Homo sapiens: one gene and its partners. The protein of the gene in region 2 purifies or fractionates together with the protein of the main gene of each other region. This does not show direct contact. Each region holds a gene or a part of one and is shown on either strand. Other genes may lie near its edges. The genes, in order: SMC3, DZIP3, MAGED2, TLE3, GRIPAP1, GOLGA5 and LIMD1.

What was found.
Region 1: the proteins of DZIP3 (region 2) and SMC3 purify together in Homo sapiens (affinity purification with mass spectrometry, with the first as the bait; one study listed by BioGRID). This does not show direct contact.
Region 3: the proteins of DZIP3 (region 2) and MAGED2 purify together in Homo sapiens (affinity purification with mass spectrometry, with the first as the bait; one study listed by BioGRID). This does not show direct contact.
Region 4: the proteins of DZIP3 (region 2) and TLE3 purify together in Homo sapiens (affinity purification with mass spectrometry, with the first as the bait; one study listed by BioGRID). This does not show direct contact.
Region 5: the proteins of DZIP3 (region 2) and GRIPAP1 purify together in Homo sapiens (affinity purification with mass spectrometry, with the first as the bait; one large-scale study listed by BioGRID). This does not show direct contact.
Region 6: the proteins of DZIP3 (region 2) and GOLGA5 purify together in Homo sapiens (affinity purification with mass spectrometry, with the first as the bait; one large-scale study listed by BioGRID). This does not show direct contact.
Region 7: the proteins of DZIP3 (region 2) and LIMD1 purify together in Homo sapiens (affinity purification with mass spectrometry, with the first as the bait; one study listed by BioGRID). This does not show direct contact.

Annotation. Positions count from the first base shown.
Region 1 is NC_000010.11:110,588,195-110,591,694, reverse strand, and holds part of SMC3 (structural maintenance of chromosomes protein 3), read right to left. Parts: intron 2,091-3,500; coding exon 1,987-2,090; intron 1,804-1,986; coding exon 1,704-1,803; intron 1,284-1,703; coding exon 1,123-1,283; intron 705-1,122; coding exon 563-704; intron 1-562. UniProt on the Homo sapiens protein: Central component of cohesin, a complex required for chromosome cohesion during the cell cycle. The cohesin complex may form a large proteinaceous ring within which sister chromatids can be trapped.
Region 2 is NC_000003.12:108,596,222-108,599,721, reverse strand, and holds part of DZIP3 (E3 ubiquitin-protein ligase DZIP3), read right to left. Parts: intron 1-3,500. UniProt on the Homo sapiens protein: E3 Ubiquitin ligase proteins mediate ubiquitination and subsequent proteasomal degradation of target proteins.
Region 3 is NC_000023.11:54,810,745-54,813,629, reverse strand, and holds part of MAGED2 (melanoma-associated antigen D2), read right to left. Parts: intron 2,810-2,885; coding exon 2,501-2,809; intron 2,381-2,500; coding exon 2,317-2,380; intron 2,057-2,316; coding exon 1,977-2,056; intron 1,474-1,976; coding exon 1,379-1,473; intron 686-1,378; coding exon 606-685; intron 513-605; coding exon 470-512; intron 143-469; coding exon 80-142; intron 1-79. UniProt on the Homo sapiens protein: Regulates the expression, localization to the plasma membrane and function of the sodium chloride cotransporters SLC12A1 and SLC12A3, two key components of salt reabsorption in the distal renal tubule.
Region 4 is NC_000015.10:70,059,918-70,063,417, forward strand, and holds part of TLE3 (transducin-like enhancer protein 3), read right to left. Parts: intron 733-3,500; coding exon 613-732; intron 1-612. UniProt on the Homo sapiens protein: Transcriptional corepressor that binds to a number of transcription factors. Inhibits the transcriptional activation mediated by CTNNB1 and TCF family members in Wnt signaling.
Region 5 is NC_000023.11:48,981,765-48,985,264, forward strand, and holds part of GRIPAP1 (GRIP1-associated protein 1), read right to left. Parts: intron 2,107-3,500; coding exon 2,011-2,106; intron 1,677-2,010; coding exon 1,464-1,676; intron 1,329-1,463; coding exon 1,215-1,328; intron 109-1,214; coding exon 31-108; intron 1-30. UniProt on the Homo sapiens protein: Regulates the endosomal recycling back to the neuronal plasma membrane, possibly by connecting early and late recycling endosomal domains and promoting segregation of recycling endosomes from early endosomal membranes.
Region 6 is NC_000014.9:92,811,305-92,814,804, reverse strand, and holds part of GOLGA5 (golgin subfamily A member 5), read right to left. Parts: intron 3,255-3,500; coding exon 3,051-3,254; intron 1-3,050. UniProt on the Homo sapiens protein: Involved in maintaining Golgi structure. Stimulates the formation of Golgi stacks and ribbons. Involved in intra-Golgi retrograde transport.
Region 7 is NC_000003.12:45,681,751-45,684,295, reverse strand, and holds part of LIMD1 (LIM domain-containing protein 1), read right to left. Parts: 3' UTR 1-2,545. UniProt on the Homo sapiens protein: Adapter or scaffold protein which participates in the assembly of numerous protein complexes and is involved in several cellular processes such as cell fate determination, cytoskeletal organization, repression of gene transcription, cell-cell adhesion, cell differentiation, proliferation and migration.

The DNA of each region.
Region 1 (3,500 bases), on a different chromosome or scaffold from region 2:
GCAATTACACTGTTCTAAGAATGGTGTCTGAAGAATATTTTTAATCCACCTAAAGTGCACTTTTGTTACCAACAAAAGCAATGTTATGCTTCCGAAGTCTATCACCTTACTAGCCATTTTTTTCATTTAATCCTAAGTACGTCAAGACACTTTTAAACTATACATGACAGTTCCTTGGGAATCTTTCTCCAACTCCCTAACCTTAATTATGTCACTCCCAGATATGCTCTCAAAGTATCCTGTACTTACGCTTTTAACACTGCACATTTGCAATGATTTGTTTCATATCTTAGCTTTTTTCTCTTCTTTTTAAATGATCCTCCCACTTCAGCCTCCCAAGTAGCTGGGATTACAGGCGTGCATCACCACACCAATCATAGCTGTGACTTCTGTCTCCCTCCCCAAAACCCACTCAGCACTAAGGTCCATGGGAAGACAGATATTTTTATCTCATACACCACTGAATCCCAGTGTATAGTGCCTGGGCACTAGCATGTGTTAGATTATGTGATAAAAAATAACATTATAAAAGAGAAATACACCTTATCACACAATGACTCACATTGGTTTCAGGATAGGCTGTATCCCTGACATCTAACTTGTTAAGAGGCAGAAAAGTAACCTCTCCAGGAAGATTCATTTTATTAAACTCCATTAAAATCTTCGTGCTGACTTCATCTGAATCAACAATGTGATAAAATAACCTAAATATAAACAGAGTAAGACAAATCTTTATTGGTACTCAGGGTCTCCCTATGTTGCCCAAACTTATCAATCCTCCCACCTCAGCCTCCTGCATAGCTGGGACTAAAGGTGTGCACTTTTAAAATGTTATAAACACTTAAGCATCAAACAGTTTTTTCCTATATAATCCAAATAATTTTGGAAAATAAGACTACTTTAAAAATTCCAATGGCGGGGAGGGAGAAACTCCCAAAAGAGGAAAGTTCTAGCTTCTATAATTAGGAACAAATACTTAGCATCTACTTCTTTAATTAGAAAGTTAAGGAACCGAGATATAAAAAGATAATGGAAGATATGTTGTACAAAAACTACAAAAGTTGTTTAAGCTATTCTTATTCCCTCTTCTAAAAATGCTAAATATCAAGCAAAAGCTTTAACCTGTTTCCAGCAGTGACTTCCACGCATGTGTAGAAAGCTGGTTCACATTCAAAGTTATTCATTACAATACCATGATAGCCATTTTGAACATGCTGGTTTATTCCTTTTCGACGGAAGTGGTCTAGCACTTTGTTTATGCTGTCTATTCCATTTAAAATGGCCTGTAAGTTGTCAGAAATGAAAAATATTAAAATAATATCATCAATGGCACTCCTGGTAAGGAATGAGCCCACAACACCATACATTTTAAAAATATACCAGTGATTAAACTAAACATCCTCTCCAACAAACACATCACCTCCTCACAATATGCCAACTACATGTAACACCTTATATGATAGGCTCTGTTCCATAACAGTAGTGTTAAAAATGGGCTCTTTATCTGAACATCAAAAGTGCTATTAATAGTATGTGTAGTAATAAAACTATTTAATCTCTATCATTTCATATTTAGAAGATAATTTGGACTCCTATTTATCACTTGGAACCCATGACCTACACCTTGAAAGGTAAAAAATTATTACATAACGATTAACTCAATGACTCAGTGTAAACAGAGGTGATGAAAAGAACCTGCCCACCTTTCCTGTTGCTGCTCTAAGAAGTTGTTGCTTCTTTTCAAGATCTTCTCTTTTAGCAGCAAGTGCTTGCTGTTCTGCATTCTCTTCTCTCCACAAGTAGCTAATAAATAAAAAGTAGACTGTCTTTAATTTTAAACACATATGAGGATGCATTAACAGTATACAGTTTAGAATCAAAATACAGAAAACAAGCCTGACCGGTTAACTTGTAACTTAAAGACCACATAACAGCTAGTAACGAACATTACTGAAAACATTAATGCACATTTTAGTCTATACTAACTTTCTTTCACTTTGTAGTTCATCTTTCTTATTTTTTACTTCGTAATATTTTCTGTCCAGTTCTTCTACTCGAGCTTTGACTTCATTAAGATCCTGGTCCAGTTTCTATGGAAATAAAAATAAATTTAAAATTCAATTTCATGAAACTAATCTACACTGATAGAAAGCAGATCAGTGGTTGCAGATGGATGGGGGAGGCGGACAAAAGGTGAGGGAGGAATTACAAAGGGGTATGGAAAACGCTTTTGGGTAATAAACGTGTTTATTGTCTTAACTGTGGTGTGTGGTGTCTTAACTGTGTGGTGTTTTACAGATGTATACGTATGTCAAAACTCATCAAATTATATACTTTATTTTTGCCACTTTCCTGACTAGGAAAAATGATGTACACTAAATATGTACAATTTACTGTATGTGAATTATACCTCAATGATGCTGTTGAAAAATCCAATTTCAGTTTGTTTTTTTTGTTTTTTGTATTTTTAGTAGAGACGGAGTTTCACCGTGTTAGCCAGGATGGTCTCGATCTCCTGACCTCATGATCCGCCCGTCTCGGCCTCCCAAAGTGCTGAGATTACAGGCGTGAGACACTGCGCCCGGCCCCATTTCAGTTTTTAAAAGTTGTCTTTAGGCAAAAGAGCATACCACACCAGAAAACACAAACCATTAAATACTATAAAACATGTTGCTAAAAGTTAATTTGTTCATTAGTGATCTAAATCTTCCTATTTCTATAATATACACTCCAGAATTTTAGAAAAAAAATTCTAAGTTCTCATAATAGTCCATTATATACTTTCATACTGCCCCCTCTACACACACACACAACAGAACACAAAAACTATTTTCAACTATTTTACATTCAAGAAAAATGAGTTAAAAATCTTGGCAGAACCTATAACAAATCTCTAAGAACCTAACGTAAGATGCTGTTTCCTTAAGGAGAATTAATGAACTGTATTCATTAATTTAGTAGACTATACTGAGCTGAAAAAATCCAATAGCCTCACTGGCTAGAGTTTAAGGAAGCTGACACTTCATCCACTTAGTGAAGTTACCAAAACCCCAGTATGTACCAGGCATTCTTAGAAGAGCTGGGGAATCATAAAAGACCAAAGCAAACAAAAATCCTTGCCTTACTGGGAAGCAATAAGACAAGCAAAATAAAGCTGAAGATCATCCTTCAGGGGAAGGGCTTCAAACTGCTTCATAAAGTAATTACATTCATCTGTTTGTATTATAACTAATTATTGTCAGATATCAAAGTAATTGTAAATATTCCCACAGAGTACTGACAATTATTCATCCTCAGTAGTAACACTGACTTTTTGTCCAAAATTTTAATGGACAAAAGTCAATGTTACTACTAATTCCACTGACAAAAAGTCAATGTTACTACTGAGTCACAAAATCTTAGATTGGCCGGGCGCGGTGGCTCACACCTGTAATCCCAGCACTTTGGGAGGCCGAGGTGGGCAGCTCATGAAGTCAAGAGATGGAGACCATCCTGGGCAA
Region 2 (3,500 bases):
CTTCATGACCTAATTTATCTCCCAAAGGCCCAACCTCCTAATACTATCACATTGGGGGTTAGGATTTCAACACTGAATGAGGGGGGACACAAACATTCGGTCCACTGTGCAGTTGTTCTGTGGTTACAGCACTATGAAAGTCTTTATTTCTCGTATGTTAGTGAGCTCTGTGTAGACAAAAATGGCTGAGGCCATTAGGTTAGACTCAAAGAATAACAAGTTAACAAGTTGCACCATTATTTTGTATTAGCAATAATTAGTATGAACAAAATATACTGATTACTTGGTTTTATAATTTACTGTTAATTTCTCCATTTTTTAATTTGTTTAACTTCCTGGTAAAGCTACAAAATAAATACACCTAGACACCAGTAGCTAAAATATTATTTGCTCCCAAAGAACATACAGTTTGCTTATTCAAACTCCAGAACTTATGGATGATGGTGGAAAAATCTTTGCAAAAGTTATCAGAAACTGGAAGATATTTTCTATCCCAAAAGATCACTGTTTATGTTAGCTCTTGCCACTTTGCAAAGATCACTGTTAGCAATATATCTGCTTAAACCAGGAAATAAGTGCCTTATAATGTATACTCATCACCCCTTGTTACAAATCTGCCAACATGGGAAACATCCTTTCCTAAAGCAAAATTAACATCTTGTCTTAAGCAGGTTTTAAATTCTGTTCAGATCTATTCAATTAGTTACTTTTGGACTTACACAGGTAAACCTATAGTATACATATTAATTTGTTTTGAATAGTTGGAATGTGCCTACAATGAATATGCACAAGTTAGGATTTACCTGAAAAACTATCCAGATACTAAACAAGCCATCAGTTTCAAACATTTACAGATAGCACTGCTAAAACCACACTCTTCAGAAACGTAGCTAGAAACCACTGGAAGAAGCATATGCTACCCCTAAGCACATACTCCAAAGGTGGAATATTTTCAGCAATTTAAAAATATTATGTTGTCATTATAGTTGTTAGATAATGAGAAAAGAAGGGAGAATCCTGAGACATAACGCACGCAGAGATGGTAATCAAATAGGGAATGGGAATACTTCTTTCATGTACTTGCCTCTACCACCACCAATGAAAGCTTGCCCTATCCACCTCCAGCTTGCTCCACCCCATGTAAGAAAATTGGCAGCTCACTGTTATCTCAGAAAAGCATACATTTGTAAGAAGCGTGTAGGTAAGAAGGCAGAGCGAGCTTTTGGTTATAAAGAGTTTCTTTTCATATAGTATTAACTGAGTGTATTACCTTGGGTTGCATTGAAAATAAGCTTAATTTTCATCAGCTCCTATGTGCCACGCTCTAAGCTATGCACCTTGAATAAACATCTGATCTTTACACAACTATGGAAGATAAACATTATTGTAATAAGTTTTAAAAATTAAGAAACTGAGGCTTATAGAGTCTCATAGCTAATAAATCCGTAAGAGCAGAAATTCATGCCCAAATTTTACCAACTGCAATTCTATTTTCTTCCATGTCCCATTACTTCTAGTAACATATTTAATTTTATATAAGCTTAGTGTATAATTATGAGCTGGACTAGATAATATGCACATATGCATACTCAGAAATGAAACTATTTACACATTCTTAGTAATACTATAAAAGTTATTAATCATGCCAGCCTAATATTTCATAGTCACTAGTCACACTAGTTTTTGCTAAGAGTTTTTCTATTCAACAAAACAATTCAGATACTATACATGGTACTGAAATAAACAATGAAATGGACAATAGTTCACACCTGGCTAAATGATCTCTCAAAGTTAAAGATTTTTAAAAATGAAATCTCCAAACTTTTTTGATCACATAGCCCTAAAACAGTAAAAGATCTGAGAATATGCTGAAAATATAAGAATATCAATTCACTTATAAATTATATGCAGGCATAATTATTATAACATAAAAAAAGAATAAGATAAAAGCAAGTAAAAAACGTTTTAATATTTGTTCCCACACCTCAATGGACAGTTTCACATATCCCCTGAGGTGTGCATACTGTACTCTGGACACTACTGTCTTCGAAAACAGCTTCACATTTTAATTCAGGAAATAGATATCCACTCATTTCATAAGCCTGATAGTATTTATTTTCTGAAAGACCAGAAATTTAAAAGTGAGATAAGCAAAGACCCATGCTCTGCACCTATCTTGAAGATAGGTCTTCAAGAAATAGTAATTACCAGGATTACTGTTCCTTAACTTAAAAGTATATCATTTTCATCTTTACTTACACTCTACTTATACTTAACACTGGATTCAGAAACAATGGATAGTACTTGCATTAAAAAAAAAAGGCAAGGCAACATTCTTATTCTGGGATAGATGTGATTAGATTTGAGATGTGGTATAAGATATGAAAATGGGGGAATATATACTCAAAATATTCAAACCTTGTACTCTTAACCTAAAGTTGAATGCTGTGAAATGTATAAAAAGAAAAAGCAGAAACTGTTTGAAAAGTGAAAGTTAACTTCATGGTTGGGCAAATCATTTAGAGTTTAGCTGAACTGTAATACTTGATACTTGTGAAAGAAAACAGGAAAAATAATTGTAAAAGGAGAATTAATTTTTTTTAGATTTTCTGGCTTTGTGACAAAGGTAACATTTCTGAAAAATATGAGTTGACACTAATCATACACTTAGTTTCCTGACTCTGCATAAGGGGTAGAATCAGATTAATATTAGCATTTGAATTATTTTAGCTATATTGGGCACATGGTTATCTAAATGACCCCATGCCTAGACCTGTGCCAATTTTCTACTGCAGGATTTCTGATTTCATGCTTTAGAAACTGGGCCAGTGAAACTTTTGTTCTACCAGCCGTTTATGTCTACTGAATAATCCCTCAGTTTTAGATTTGGCTTCATGTCCCCACTAGAATATAAGCCCCATGAAGTTAGGAAAACTTTGTTTTCATTCCTTGGTGCCTAGAATAGCACCTGGCACACGTTAAGCACTCAATATTGCTTTAAAAAATGAACTCACCCACCCTTCTGCACACCTCAAGGCCTCTGAAGGCAGATGTAAAGAGGGAGCCCGTGTGTAGATTGTAACAGCCTTCTTGGCCAACCTAAAATTCTCCTTTAGAAGTCAAGAGGCAGCTCATATGCTACAAGTAAAGCTGGTACCTGTAGGCAACCATGGCGTCAAGACAGAACCTGTGTCTTCTTGCAGTTAACTTCTGTCTCCTTTGCCAGTTCCTCCACACTTCTCCAACCTCTAAATACTTAAATATCAGGGAGTTCAGTCCTAAAAAGTCTTTTCTATCCATACTTGGTCCTATATCATTTAGTCTCAAGGCTTTCAATTTCTATCTCCAACCCTGACCGCTCCTTTAACTACCAGTAATTTGATAGCCTACTCAATCTCTCCTGGATGTCTAACATCACAACATAACCTAAATAGAAATCCAGGTATCTGCCCCTCTCCACGAAAAGGCTGAAGCACAGCCACCCAGTCAAATCAGGCCTG
Region 3 (2,885 bases), on a different chromosome or scaffold from region 2:
CATGCACCACGGCTTTATCACTCAGTTCTGAAATAGGCCAAATGCATGGGACACATGAACACCAGACAGAGATACTTACTTCTGCTTCACAAACTCATCAGTGATGAGCTTCTTCACGTCCCCAAAGAGTGAATGATGTATCCTGAGAGAAGAAAAAGAAAAATAAATAAACAAATAAATTCACTCAAGGCTATGGCACTTCCCAGATGTGGGCAGAGGCATTTCCAAGATGGAAAAGAGGTTTCCAGCACAAGAGGGAAGCTCCATAGAAGCCCAAGAGACACTGAGAGAGGGAGCAGAGAGTTCAGGACCATTCACCCATCATCCACCCAGGTCAGAACCCTGGGCCCTCTACCCAGTCCAGCACCCCACCCGCTCCACCAGACCACCAGACTGATGCAATCCTAGGACCGTCCTCTCTTGCCAAAGGACAACACGGACAGCAAGCGCTGAGAGAGCCCAATCATACCCAGGGCGCAGCCCCAACTTGCGCAGCACCTCCCAGATGACAGCTGCGAGGGGAGGCAAGAGGAGACAGGGACAGAAATTGAACACATGGAATCTAGACCACAGCCACCCATTCAGCTGCAAGCCCAGCCACTCACCCTCACTGGACCGATTTCCATTCATGAAGATGATGCTAAGAAGCACCATGAGCAGACCCAGCTTGGGTGAGTCCTTAGTCCTAGAGAAATAACAGGACAGAGAGGTTTATGTTCAGCAGCCATCTGCAACAGACACACCAGCCAACTCACTAGGCTAGCCTCTCCCAGATTCCTCAGATACAGAATTCTACCCAGTCTCTGCTTCCAGCTCTATGCCACCCTTGGCAAGGCACTTAGACTTGCAAGCCTCAGTCTACTCTTCAGTAAAATAGAAAAAATCATATTTTCCCTTCCCTGGGTTTCCAAGAAGATGGAAGAATGGCTGCCAACCTGGTACAACACAAGCACTCAGTCAATGTGAGTCCCTTCTTTCTGTCCCAGAACCTTCAGCCCCACTGACACTCCTGCGCTTCATGCATCCTGATCCACCCACACCAGGAAGCCCTCCTTGAGAACCACTCTGCCAAAGCCAGGCCAGGCACCCAGTAGGAAGAGGCAAGCAACGACAGGCCTGCTTTCCTGGGAAGCTTCTACAGAGACAGCAAACCTGACAGCAGGAATGTCCCACTCCAGGCTCCTACACCCTCCAGTCAATCATAATCAGGTGCCACCACTGTAAGCAGGGCTCCAACTATGCATAGGAACTGGGACGGGGCTTTTGAGACCCTGTCTTTCCTGACTCTCTAAGAGGATGGGGGAAGTAGGACAAAGGAGGAGTAGCAGCACATGGCCAAAGCAGAAGCCCCCCACACCTCAGCCCTTTCCCAGCTTACGTTCCCAGTATGCCTGCATCAGTGGGCTCTAAGGTGCTGAGAAGAATGTACAAGTGGTCATTCTTATCAATTTCCTTCAATTGAATCCCAAATACCTGTGGATGGGGAGAACAGCTTGTGAGATGACAAAATTCAGCTTCCGGGGCATGCTGCAGCTCCCTATGTACCTAGGAGTTTCGCATGTGTGAGAAATCAGTGAGATAATACGCACAAAGTACATAGCTAAGTGCCTGGCACCCGGTAAACACGCTGCAAATGTACTATTGTCATCATCATCTTTGTGGTGAGTGGGACTCTAGGGAGACAGAGAATGGGGAATGAAAGGGAGAGGTGAAATCTCAAATACATGGCAGGAGCTGCCATGGACGGACAGAAGCCAGGATTAAGTTGGGTGTCTTGGGTCCTAGCTGCACTTTTACCATTGACTTGCTGTGTGACCCATCGCTAATCTACACCCCTCCCTAGGCCACTGTCTGCCCCTCAGCATAGCGATGGAGCTGGATTAGCAGGTCTCTTTGGTTCCCGAGAAGGGACTTGTACATTTTTGTTCAATTCAAGGCTTCCCCACTGTGCCCATCCCCCAGGGCTGCCCCTTCACCTTCTCCAAGGAATAGCCTGCTCGTTCAATGATTTCGGGGTACACATCAGTGTATTCTTTGATGATGTCCTTCAGCATGTCTGCAAGGGGAGAGTGTTGTGAGCACCTGACTGAAGAGATGCCAGGTGGCCCTGATGCCCAAGCTATAGACTCTTTGCCAACCACACCAAGGGTGGCATAACCCGGTTCTGTGCTTATCAACAGAGATGCTAGCACTGCCAAATCAGAACTTTGGGAGGACAGAGACATAAGCATAAGAGCAGGGGATATCCCCAGCACAATGGTGTAAGGGCAATGGAGGGCAGAGCTCAGGGCAGAGGGAGGATTGGTAGGACTTTACCCGAGCGCTTGATGGGAATCTTCGTCTGGTCTTTAGCCAAAAGGTACTTCACCAAATCATTTGCCTGGCAGAGTAGAAAAAGATGGAAAGACCAAAACAAGTTTGCAGAAAACTTGAGACGATGGCAAAGAAAAGGACAGCCAAGGCAGTAGAAAAGGCAGAATAAAAACGACAGAGTTCTTACCCTCCCTTGCAAAAGGGCCACATCCCGAGGTGGTGGTGCTTCAGGCTCTTGGGATGACTGGAGCTTGGCAGCTCTACGGCGAGCCTTGCCCCTACGGGCTTTAGGTGATCTCAGGGAGAGCAAGGCTCTCCGGGCCCAAGCAGCCAACCGAGTCCTTGATGCCCTGCGGGCCCAAAAGGCTATGGGACCCCTTGAAGCCCTGCGGGCCATTGAGGCCATTAGGGCCTTTGAGACCCTTCGGCCACCTGTGGTTCCAGAAGCCTGACTCTGATCACTGCTGCCATCCTCTTCCCCATCCAGATGCTTCACCTGCATCAACAGAGAGGAAGCTCAACGTCACCAGATGAAGCAAGTGGTCCTTTTCCTCTCCCTATCTCTTCCAGGA
Region 4 (3,500 bases), on a different chromosome or scaffold from region 2:
TGCTCAATGTGTCCAAAGCCACACAGCAGCCATGTGGCTGAAGAGGGCTGGGTGCAAGACCGCTGAGGCCCTGCACCATATCCTCCCCTTCCCTCTGTCCCAGCTCTCAGCCCTGCACAGCCTGACACAGGGGAAACACAACAGCCATGCTTCCACTAGGGTCTCACGTGCCGGGGGCATCCCATTAAAAGGCTAGTAAAAGCCATGACTGGGTGGCCAAGTGAGTGCATGCCTCAGGCCAACTGAGAGGACTATAGGGTCCACATTTTGGGGGTCACTGGGAGCAGCCCCTTAGAGCCAAGTGGGATTCCGGCAGCACCATGACAGCAGCATGGGGTTGTTGGCCTGTCTGTGGGAAGAGACCCCATGGAGGCTAGGACGACCTCCCCATCCACCTCCGCCCCACAGTGGCTCGCATGCTCATAGCGTGTGTGAACTTCACCCTAGCCCTGTTCCCACCCTGCTCTCCTCAATAGGGTCCCCTATCGCCAACCTGTGCTTCTCTGACTCACTGCCAACCACAAGAAGACCCTGGCCACAGCTTGGGCCCTGCAGACACCCCCTGCCCTACCCAACAGAAACCCCAGTGGTGCCATGGCGCCTTGGACGTACGTATCGGCTCAAGCTGTCCTTCTCCTCCGCCTTCCGCTTCTTGGCTTCCATGCTGTAGTCCGCAGAGCCCCGGTGCTTCTCACTGGCCCGGAGGCTTTCCGAGGGTGACACAGAGTTATTCTGGAAGGAAAAAGAGGGTTCGGGGTTAAAACTTTCTGCTGCGTGTAACAATTCACACATCCGCACACAGCTAAGTGCAGGTGACACGGAGGTCAGGGGAGGGAAGAGAAGCTGAACTCCTCTCTGCCCTGCAGATCGTGGCTCCATCAGAGCCTTGCCAGGGAAGCCTTCCCCACTCCCCTGAGACTGAGTCCCCGGGGAGATGCCCTGGGCGCATCCCCAATTCTCTTTTGCAGCTCTGCACTGCTATTAAATAATTAACCCTGCAGTAAGCCGTCTGCCTTCTGGCCTGTGGGACTACGCTCTGTGAGGGCGAGGGTCACCTGGGTCTCATTCACCACCCATCTCGCGCTTGCCACACTCATTTGCTCAAAGGAGGGATAAGTGGAATTTGCACTGAGTCTTGTAAGATGGATCTGAGCTGACAGGCAGGGGCCATGAGCAATACTTCATTTGCTGAGCCCGACAGGAATGGGGAGATTGATAGGGAAGGAGGGCGTCAGGCAGCCACCAACTTCCCAGTGGAGATGAGCAGCCAAGCGTTCTGTGTGAACACCCCCGCCTCCACGGTGAGGCTGTCAGCAACTCTGGAGAAACACCAGGGTTGTAAAAAAAACAAAAATGCCACGTCATGAAGCCTTTCCCTCTGACAGACAGGGAAAGGAGCAAGGGCAGGGACAGTCACTGCCTCTGTAGCCATCACCAAGTGGAGACCCCAAGAGGTTGGTGAATGTGCCCAAGCTCCCCTAGCAGAAGGTGGCACAAAGGGAACCCCAAAATTTCGTGAGTTCTCCCTCAACTATAAAGCAAATGAGGATGAGAAGCCTTTGGGATGGGAGGCCTGGGAAGAGGGAAGATGACGGAGTAGTCCTAGGGGTTGATAGTGGTCAGAAATCACCATGTGGCTGTTACCACCGAGCTGGGGAGCAGGGAGGGAAGTGCAACTGGCAAGGGCACCTGCCAGCAAACCTCTGTGCCCAGAGACTAATATCAGGACCAATGCCCCTCTATGATATTGGTGAGGTTTACTCCTTTCTAAGAGTCCAAACTTTACCTTCACCCACCCACCAATTTCCGAGCAGCTGCCCTGGGTCAGCCCTGGTGCTGCAGGCCAGGAGTGGCAGAATGAATGAGATACAATCCCTGCCCTCCAGGAGCTCATGGTCCAGCTATGATGGAGCTGGAAGAAAAGGACAGGCCATCCCAGGTCCCAGTCCCCATGCAACACAGGAGGTCATATGGAGACCCAGAGGGACATCTGTTCAGAAGAGAAGAGCATCAGAAGGCAAGTGGAATGAGGCTTCCCTTCTCTTCTCCACTTTCCCAGAGGCCAAGCGTGGCTCAGGGGCAAGGGCCACTTGGAGGGAACGGGGCTGGGCAGTATTCGGTGGGAATAGTGCGGCAACCAGCCTCAGAACTTAATTTCCTTTCCTAAGCCGGGTTCTGGGCAGCCCTACCCGGCCAAGTTTCTGCCCGAAGCAAATTAAAATGGCAGAGTTATCAAGCCTTGAAGAAAAAATGGAGGTTATAATGGAACTGCAGCTCAACCTTCCCCACAGCCGTGCAGGAGCGGTGGCGATGCGCGCACAGCCACAATTCAATTAGCTGCTGCAATCGCCGGCAGAAAAATCACCGTCATTTCATTTCATTTCCTCTGACGGTGGTGGCCACCCTGTGCTAAGCAGAAATGCTTCCAGCCCCTCGCACTGGCTGCCCCTTGCAGGCGGGCGGGCAGGGGAGGGGGCGTGCGGCTGCTCGTGTTTCTCCTCGCGACCCGGTGCTCGGCTCGGGAGAACAGCGAGCTCTTTCTTCTCATGCAGTCAGGCTGAAAACCCTCGCCGCTACCGGAGAGTCATGTCAGGCATTTAGCGGCATCGATCCAGCCCGCCTCTGGCTGGCAGGCGGCCAAAAAACTAAGTATTTTTTATTGCTTCGGCTAGGCAAGGAAATATGAATGAAGCTACCACTAATTGGACTCCAGACTAACCCCTCTGGGACAGCTTCCAGCCCGTCCCCCCATCCCCCCTCCCACTCTGACACAGCCCTGTCCTTCCTGCCGTAGGCCTCATCTGTTGACAACCTGGTTTCCAAAGCCTGATTATTTCAGTCTACACCGCCGCTGACACCGTCACCACGCCACATGCCATGCGCACAGCCTCGGCCCTGCCCACTGCTGCCTCTGCCCAGCATCTTGATTCATTCCCACTGGAGTTTCCTGAGGCCCATGTGTGCCATGCATGGACCTCAGCGAGCATGGTAAACAGCCCAGCTCTTGGGGGTTCCCAGGGGGGGTCTTTTAGCAGAAAACTTTCACAGATGGGGCACAAAGCCAGAAGCCAATAGGGATGAGGATGAGGTAAAGACTCATGCTCTTTAGAGAGTGCTGGGCTTCCCACTCCCCCTCCAATTCCACTGAAGTGGGTCCCTGCTAGCCAGGTAATCTGGATCCTCAGTCAGGTTATAAAGGGTCTTCCGAAACAAAGCTGAGAGGTTGGTCAAGCAGGAATTATTCCCATGGTATGGATAAGGAAACTGAGGCTCAGAGAGGCCAAGAGAACTACACAGGGCCTCATAAAGCTGGGACCAGACCTCAGCCTTAAAATGTCCAATCCAGGCCTCCGCCTATCTAGGCAAACTGCCTCTCCGAAAAAATGCCACTGTTAGAGGATCAGTACCGAGGCAGTGAACATGGATTTTCAGCTTCAATGACTCCTCTCTTAGGTACCTAGCCATTCCTCAGCCCAAATGTGGTCCTGGATTTCTGAGCA
Region 5 (3,500 bases), on a different chromosome or scaffold from region 2:
GAGAGAGGAACACCATCATGCGAGAGGCACCTTCAGCTCGGCAGCGTGCTGCTCCCGACACTGCTTGAGGGCTTCCTCTTGTTCCTGCTGCTGCTGCTGCAGGGATTCCTACAAGACAAGTCCCAGGTCTGGCCACAGCCCCCCAGAAGGTATCATGCCCAGTTAGGGGTATGAGGGACTGCAATGGGGGCCCAGAGGTATGCAGAAATGACCCTCCTGCAGGGAACCCCACACGCCCTTAGGCAATATGCTGAAGTGTCACATCTAAAGTTGCACCATTCGCATGGTTGACTTAGATTTGCATTTACATTTTATTTTATTTAACAAAACATAGCGCTTACTACATGCCAAGAATGTTCTAAGGGTTTTACATATATTAACTCATTTTCTATAATCCTCCCGTAATACCTAGATGGTAGATATTATTGTTACCCCCTTTTTACCATTGATGAAAACAGGCCACAGAGAGGTCAGATAACTTGCCCAAGGTCACACAGCTAGGAAATGGCCCAGCCAGGATTCAAACCTAGACAAACAACTGGCTCCAGCCTGTGCTCTTCACTGCTACATGACAATGCCTTTCAGTGTATTATGAGATTTCCAGAAAATGGCAACAAAGGTTCTTTTTCCGAGACAGAGTCTCACTCCGTCACCCAGGCTGGAGTACAGTACACGATATCAGCTCACTGCGACCTCTGCCTCCTGGGTTCAAGTGATTCTTCTGCCTCAGCCTCCTGAGTAGCTGGAATTACAGGCGCCAGCCACCATGCCCGGCTAATTTTTGTATTTTTAGTAGAGACAGGGTTTCACCATGTTGGCCAGGCTGGTCTTGAACTCCTGACCTCAAGTGATCCGCCCACCTCGGCCTTCCAAAGTGCTGAGATTACAGGCGTGAGCCACCGCACCCAGCAGGTTCTTGTTCAATAACATCAGTGTATTGCATTAATTTCCTGACAGAAGTACAGTTTCAGGAGAAAGAGGTGCCTTTCCAAATTTGCACAAAGGCAGGGCAGCCTTAACACGTGACAGTCTGTCCTATCTGATGGCCATCCCCTGATCCACTCCAGAGGGCTGCTATTGAGCCAGGGGACTGTGGGGATATCCCTAAGTCCAGAAAATCTCGGGAAGTTCCAGGGCCTGACCACTCCTGCTTCTGTGGTTTGACATGAGGGCCCCAATCAGCCTCTGTTCCTCACCAGGCATCACCAACTCACCTCGGCTTCCTTCAAGCGCCGTTCAAACCAGCCCTTGGCTCCATCCATGGAATGTACCTGAGCTTGAAGTTCTTCCACTGTCTGCTGGAGAGTCTCCAGCTCCCGTGTCCGGGCCTGGGATGGGGCAGACTGTCATGGGCCAGGAAGGCAGAGGAGCGGGCACCTGATGCATGCCACCCACTGGCCTATCAGCAACGCTGTGGTTCCCAGGTTTTAGAGGAAGAAGGGCATCATCATCTACCCACCCACCTTCTCCTCCCGGATCTGCCCACGGAGCTCCTCCTCCTGACGCTTCTTGTCTTCATGCAGCTCTCGGAGCTCACGCTCATAGCGGGCACGCACCCCCAGCACCTCCTTCTCATGCCGTAGACGAACTGCTCCCAGCTCTTCCTTGTGCTGGGACTTCTCTTGCAGCGTTTCCATTGCTAGCTCATCCAGCATGGCCTTCCGCTTCTCCGCACTCTGGGGGCCAGGACGATGGCAGTCAACTTCCTTCCACAACATCGAAAAAAGGCCTCCAACCCTCTTCCCATGCCCAAGGAACTAGCCAAACTCCACTCCCTCCCATCCCCACTGAACTGGCTAAGGCACTCACCCATCCTTATAGAACTGGTCACTTTCTTTCTTTCCCCTCCCACTCTCATGGATTTGGCCAAGAAACTGGTCAACCAGAAACCAGTCAATTTTCCTTTCCCTCCTATCCCCACATGTTTGGTTATATCACCTCCTCCCATCCCCATGGACTGAGCCAATTCCTACCCCCCATCCTCTCCCTTCAACCCTCATGTTCCCCTACCTTCCGAGCCTCCTGTAATTCCTGGGTCAACTGCTCCTTCTCCTGCCCTATTTCTTGAAGTTGTTCCAGCAGTCGACTATTGGCCCGTAATGACTCCTAATGCAGACACCAAAGGGAAAGAGTTTGATAAAGAGCATCCAGTAGGTGCTAGTCACCCAGGACCATCTGGTAGACCATCTCCCTTCTCCCTGGTAAAGTTGGTATTGTGATCTCAATTTCTGGATAGGAAATATAGCAGAGACTGCTAGTTGCTCCCCAGTATTCATTCTTCCTTACTTCCCTAGCAATAAAATTTATCATCGGGCATACAGCTGTCTAGCAGATGTTTCCCCTCCTCCCTTATGGTTAGGTGTGGCCATGTGATTTATTTCTGTATGTGGAAGTGGTGAGTGTAATTTAGGTTATGCTCTTAAAGGAAAGGGGCACACTCTTCCCTGCCCCTTTCCTCCTTCCTTCCAGATAGAATACAAACATGATGGTCGGGGAGTTTCAGCAACCGTCTTGGATGCCAAGATAAAAGTCTTGTGTTGAAGGTGGAGGAACAGCAATGGAGAAAGAACCTGGGTCACAGATGACTGGAAAGCCATCATTCCATCCCTGAATAACCTACCTGGACTTTTAATGAGAGGGAACTAAATTTGTATCTTATTTAATCTACTATTATTCTGGTTTCTATTATGGAATCAGAATGGATATTGCTTGGGAGGCTGAGCCGGGTAGATCTCCTGAGGTCAGGAGTTTGAGAAGCCTGACCAACATGGTAAAACCCCGTCTCTACTAAAAATACAAAATTAGCTGGGCGTGGTGCCAGGCGCCTGTAATCCCAGCTACTCCGGAGGCTGAGGCAGGAGAATCGCTTGAACCCAGGAGGCGGAGGTTGCAGTGAGCTGAGATCGCGCTACTGCACTCCAGCCTGGGCAACAGAGTGAGACTCCATCTCAAAAAAAAAAAAAAAAAAAAAAAAGGAGCCGGGCGTGGTGGCTCACGCCTGTAATACCAGCACTTCGGGAGGCCGAGGCGGGCAGATCACGAGGTCAGGAGATCGAAACCATCCTGGTTAACACGGTGAAACCCCGTCTCTACTAAAAATACAAAAAATTAGCTGGGCATGGTGGCAGGCGCCTATAGTCCCAGCTACTCGGGAGGCTGAGGCAGGAGAATGGCGAGAACACGGGAGGCGGAGCTTGCAGTGAGCCGAGATCACGCCACTGCACTCCAGACTAGGTGACAGAGCAAGACTCCATCTCAAAAAAAAATTAAATTAAATTAAAATTTAAAAAATGAAAAAGAATTGATATCCTAACTAACTGAAGAGGCTCAGTTTCAGAGAAGTGAAATGACTTGTCCCAGAACACACAGGTGCTAATAAGTTAGGGAGCCAGACTGGAACCTAGGTCCTCCTGACTCCAGTCTTCCCACTCCACCTTACTGGGGACTTCACTGGGCCATTACTAGGGAACTAGGAAGAGACAGGCCAGAGCCAAAGGTGT
Region 6 (3,500 bases), on a different chromosome or scaffold from region 2:
TGACATGCAAAGACCAGTTTATAAAGTCCTAATTCTAGACTAGGAACAACAAGGACCAGCAGCTTTCACGTTAAATTAAAATATTTTAAAGTCATTCTCCTCCATCAAAAATAATTTTTCCTTTTCTGGGTGGTAGGATTATGGGTTATTTCCATTTCCTTCTTCAAACTTCTTTTGTATTCTTCAAATTTTCTATAATAAACATGATCATTTATAACATTTTAAGATTTTTTTTAATAAAAAACCAGAAACCTCCCAACCTCATTCCCCCATCTAGCTACTGTCCTCATGTCCATGGTCAAGTACCCTGCCTCCATGTCTTCAGCTCCCAGCGCACCCCGGAACTCTCTGTTGAGAGGTCCCCAGGGACCTCCTAGTTGCCAAGTCCAGGAATTTAGCTCGGGACTTGTCACATCAGAGCCGCGTGCTGTGGTTGGTGATCATGCACCACTTGAAACTCTCCCTCTGCTTGGCTTCATTGGATGGCATCAGTCTCCTCCTGGTTCTCTCCAATCTCTGACCACTCACCTTCTCAGTATTTTTCTTTTGCAGGCTATCCTTTTGCCCAATTTGTAAATGCTGATGTTTAAGACTGTGTTTTTAGACCTCAGCCTTTCTCCCCGTTAGGTTACACATCGCTCTTGCCTAAACTTACCTACTCTCCCAACTTACTTCTAATTACCTTTCTAACATTGTCACCTCAATGTTGCATCAATTTTGCATACTTACCATAATTCGTCATACTCTCCTTTAACCCTAACCTGTTCTCTTTCCTGTTTCCCCTTTTATTAACACAAGGAAACATCATTCATACACTTAAACCAAAAACCTGGAGTCATCCTGGATTCCATTTGCCTTTTTCCCCCATCCTTCCAGTTAAATCTCCACATGTCATATATTCTATCTCCCACATATCTCTTAGCTGTCCCCTGCCTGCCATCCTCACTGCCAAAAACTTTGATCAGGTCCTCATTATTTCTTATGATCACCTCTTCACCATCTACATGCCATTGATGCCACCCCTTATCACTTCCATGTTTTCAACAATGTACCGAATACCAGGCACTGTGCTGGGGATACAACGATGAACAAGACAGAGGCCCAAATCTCCCCTAACCTTTTCATCAGGCTGCCACAGTTCTCACACTCAAACCTGACCATGGCTTCTGCCTGCCGTTGAACTTTATGAGTCTTTTGCCTCCCATCTCTGAAGACGTTATGTTCCAGCAGTATGGAACTAGCTGCAGTCCCTTAAATATGCCATGTTCTCTCTGGCCCCCTTGCTCTGGCACAGGTTGTTCTCTCGGAAATCTCTTCCCTATCATGAGTCTTCCTATTCATCTTTCAAGTTTCTCTTTATACCACATCTCCTCAGTCCAGTGATCTTTGACAGCCTCAGGCAAGTTTTAAGGGATTCTTCTCTCAAGCTCCCATTGTACTGCATTAATAACCTTATTACGTCAATTATCTGTTTCTTTCCACTAAGATGAATGTTTTCTTAAAGGAAGAGGACACATCTTTTGAGCTTTGTATCCTCTGTGCCTAGTGAGTAGTTAGGTGCTCAATAAGTAACTTTTCAATGAATTAACAAATTAGGGTGATACAAAAAAGTACTTAGAAAGAAGAGTTTGAGGAGGAGATCAATATGATACTTCATGGAAGTAGCATTAAAAAAAGGTATTCATAGCCATTAGAAGTTTGAGACTAAAGAAAAAAGGTAAAGTCAAAAATGACCCTGAGGTTTCAAGCTTTACTGCCACATGGCAGTAACGTTGACCAGAACAGAAGAATGAGGGAGAAGTTGGTCTGGGAGCTGAACACTCCATGCCTGCACAGTAGGCAGCTGGGCACTGAGGTCAGGAGGTCAGGCTTGGAAACATGCTTGAAGTCATATGCAGGCGGCTATTAGAAGCAGAGGCAGCATACAGCAGTGCAAGGTAAGAAAGGACAATGAAAGAGGGTTCAGGACAGAGCTTAGGAGGACTCTGACTCTTTGGAGATTGGGAAGAGCGCCCAAGAGAGACAGAAACAGCAGTAGAAGAGGACAAAAAGAGAGCCAAGGAGATGTGAATAGCATAGAAGGCAGGAGTTCCAAGGAAGTGGGAGGGTTAACAGAGCCAAATGTTCTACCAAAATACAAGGTATGGAGACTAAGAAAAGGACAGAGAATATTTATTTAGGTCATCAAATATTTTTGAGAAGAAATTTCAGACATGTAGTAGGAAAAGAAGGAGATAAGAGTTAACAAGTTCTACAGAAATGAAGACAGCACGTACACAATTCTGGTAAGCATGACACTGAAAGAAAGGAAGATAGGGAAATAGTGCAAAGTGGTCACAAAGCTAAAAGAGACTGTTTTTCTCTTAGGCAGGAGTCCGAGATCTAGTCTTCATTTTTCCACTAAATAACCATGTGCTCTTGAGTAAGCTGAGCCAGAAGGCAGCAGCAGCAGAGAGGCACACACAGGAAGGAAGGGCATAGATCTATGGAGAAAGGGCTTACACATGAGATGGGAGATGGAATCAATGCACAGGCAGGAAAATGATCCTAGAAAAAAATGAAAGGACATGTTTTCCCTCTGAGGGACAAAGGAAAGAGAATTCAAAAACGACATTAGATGACTGTAGTCTTTCTTAGTAAAGTAGAGGGTAAGATCACCTTAGATCTGAAGGAGGGGAAAAAAAGCTGGGTGAGACAATTCTGAGAACTGGATGAGTCCTAAAGCAGTTGCTGCAAAAATTCAATAGGAGATCAACAAGGAAGAATAAACAGCTGCTCAACAACAAGCATTAATATCATCACAGTGAGTAAGGTGACAGGTTGAAGACCTGAACTAGGCAGTGGCAGAATGAATTTTTTTTTTAAAAGAAGTGGTAGGAACAAGAAACACTGCATCCTTTAATAAAATTTCTAAAGTAGAGTAAGGCACCTAAAGCTAGCCAATCAGACGAACATGAACAAAGCACCTCACACAGTATCTACACAGTCTCAAATTGCCTTTCAGTTAACTTGCACATCTTAACATCCAAAAGTGTACATTTCATGCTTACTTGCAGTATTCTAGTAGCTTTTTGCTTGTAGTCAATTAATTCCTGCTTAGAGGACTCCAAGTTCAACTTATACAGCTTGACTTGCTGCTGCAGTTCATCAACCCTCTTCTTCTCATCTGAGTATTTTCTTTCGGCCAGTGTAATTGCTTCTGCTAAATTCTGACGTTCCATTTCCACTTTATTAAGGCGTGCAGCAAACTCGCTCTGTGACAAATTTTTATATCATAATTAATGATATCATTTAGCTTTGAAACATATTTTACAACCATCCATTCGGATATCTTATGGGATTTATTAGCTCAGCCAAACAACATAGTAGGGATGGGAAAAAATTCTTAATTTGTTAGGAGCTAAAGTATAGGAAATGTAAAGTTGTAACTCCCAAACATGGCAATGCATTAAAATCAACCAGGAAGTTTGTTAAAAATATAGCCATCCAAGGCCTTTCCC
Region 7 (2,545 bases), about 63 Mb from region 2:
CAGGGCCCAGAACCACCTGTCCTTGAGAGCTAGGATTAGTTGGAGGGACATGTATGTGACCAAGTGGTGGCAGTCCCTGAGGCTGCCTTACACACCTGGACGTATCCACATAGCCAGAGATTCTCCTAGAAGTGTCACACATCTAGGGCTGTCGCCTACCTGGGAACTTCTAACCAGATCTCTCTGACCATAACCCACAGAGTATGACCTACTCTGTTTTTTTACACCTAGAGTACAAGGTCTCAATCATGTTTGTGTAGGAAGCATTTCTGTTTTCAATCCAGGGAAAATTGCAAACCCCCACTTTCAGGGATTCCTGAAGAAAAGGCACCCAATAACTTAGGAATATTCTTTCATTTCCTCTCAAAAAACGTTCGTTGGAGTCTGTGGTAGGCTGACTAATGCTCCTCCTGTTACCGGTGGAGGGTGTCCAGGTTCTTGGCGTCTTGATAAAGAAATGGACAAAACGCACAAAGCAAGTAAAGAATGAAGCAACAAAAGAGATTTATTGAAAAACGAAAGTACGCTCCACAGGGTGGGAGCAGCCCAAGCAGCTCAAGAACCCGGTTACAGAATTTTCTGGGATTTAAATACCCTCTAGAGGTTTCCCATTGGTTACTTGGTGTACACCCTATGTAAATGAAGCAGAGGTCCATGATCAGTTTGATTGGTTGTGGGAGGGGACCAATCAGAGGCTGAAGCAAAGTTACAAAGTTACACCACCCTATACAAACATCTGACTGGTTGTGTAAAACGCCCAATCAGAGGCTGAAGTTACAAAGTTATACTCCTAGGCAAATGAAGACTTGGCCTAAGACCAGTCTGATTGGTTGTGGGAGGGGATCAATTAGCGATACTTTCAATTTTTCACCTGCCATGCAGAAAAGGGGCTGGGGGTGGGGAGGTTGCAAAGGGAGTAGCCTCTGGTCCTTTTGTTACTTGAGCGTGGAAAGTTGGGGTTTTCCTTTTGACTTAGTTCTAGGAAGTCAGCCTGAATTGGCCTTAGGAAGCCAATTCCATGCCTCCAGACCCTATCTCCTGCTTCCCTCCCCTTCAGAGATGTCCCTGTCCTCCTCACCAGAACCTGTGAATATCTTATTCTGCAAGGTAAAAGAGGCTTTGCAGATGTTATTAAGAATCACAAAATGGGAGATTATTCTAGATTATCTGGATGGGCGTAATCCCAAGTGTCCTTACAAGGAGGCAGGGAGGGTCAGAGAGGAGGTGTGACAATAGAAGCAGCCAGAATGATGCAGCCACAAGCCAAGGAAAATGGGCAGCCTCTAGAAGCGGAAAAGGGGCAAGGAATGGGCAGCACCCTATAGCACCTCTGGAAGCAATTCGCTTCTGCCGACAACCTTTGGCTCGTGTCCAGGATGACAGAATGATATATTTGTGTTGTTTTAAGCCACTGAGGTTGTGGTAATTTGTTAAGAGTGGCCATAGGAAACCAATACAGACTTCAACAGAGCAGCAGTGAGCTTCTCCTCACAGCCTCCTGTGGCTTTTTGACTATGTAGCTTTGATGAAGAAGTATACTGATGGACAATTTACTGCCTCCCATCAACCAGAGTAGTAGAGTGGTCAAGACAGCACCCTCTGGATGAGATGGCCTGGGATGGAGTACTTACTGTTTATTTCACCCTTTTGTGTCTCAGTTGTCTTGTCTATCAAATGAGGGATGATAAAGAACATACAGTCCTTGGAATAACATCTGCTATGTGATGAGCACACGGGAAATGCCAGCTATTACAGCTGCTACTGCTTCATCACAGCACTTAGAACCAGACCAGATACCCCACTGCCCAGTCCCACATGGCCCAATGCCCAAGGCTGACTCTTAGGACTATGCCATCTCCTCCCAATCCCTGGTGCCAGGATGCCTTGCTGGTAGCTGGAAAGTGGCCATGGCGGGAATATTTACATCATAGGTATCAGCAAACACTCCATATCAAGGCTTTTTAATTTTTTGCCCCAGAGGGCTGGTTTGCCAGCACACCACAACTCCAGACCGCCTTTTACCCTGATTGCATCTTCACTCCTTATACCATCAAGGTCTTAAGCAAATAGCAGCCCATGTTGGCAAAATCAGACTAGCCATTCTCTCATCACTTAAAAAGAAAAAAAAAACTTTTATTCTGGTGTAAGGTGCTATGACTATGAGTATCCTCACTCCCAGCTTTCCCGTGTCCTTGGCACGTCAGACCTGGTAGCCACAAGGACTACACTGGAGTCTAGAACAAACTCTTTCCCCACCCCAAGGATTCTAACCACACACTTGGCCCCAACACTCTACAAGTCCTGTCTTCCTGCATGTGGCTGTCTCAAACCTGAAGGATCACTCGCCTTGAGGATTCTTTGGTCATAACCTCAGAAGAGAAAAAACAGTAACATTCACAAGAGAGACAAAGTGACCTTACAAGTCACTGCATCAGGACCTTACAAGTCTCAATCTTAAAGGTCCAGTAAAAGAAACTGCTGATTCTTGGGATATGATTCTCCAAGGCCTCTCACATTTTTATACATCTGGTAAGAATAGACACCA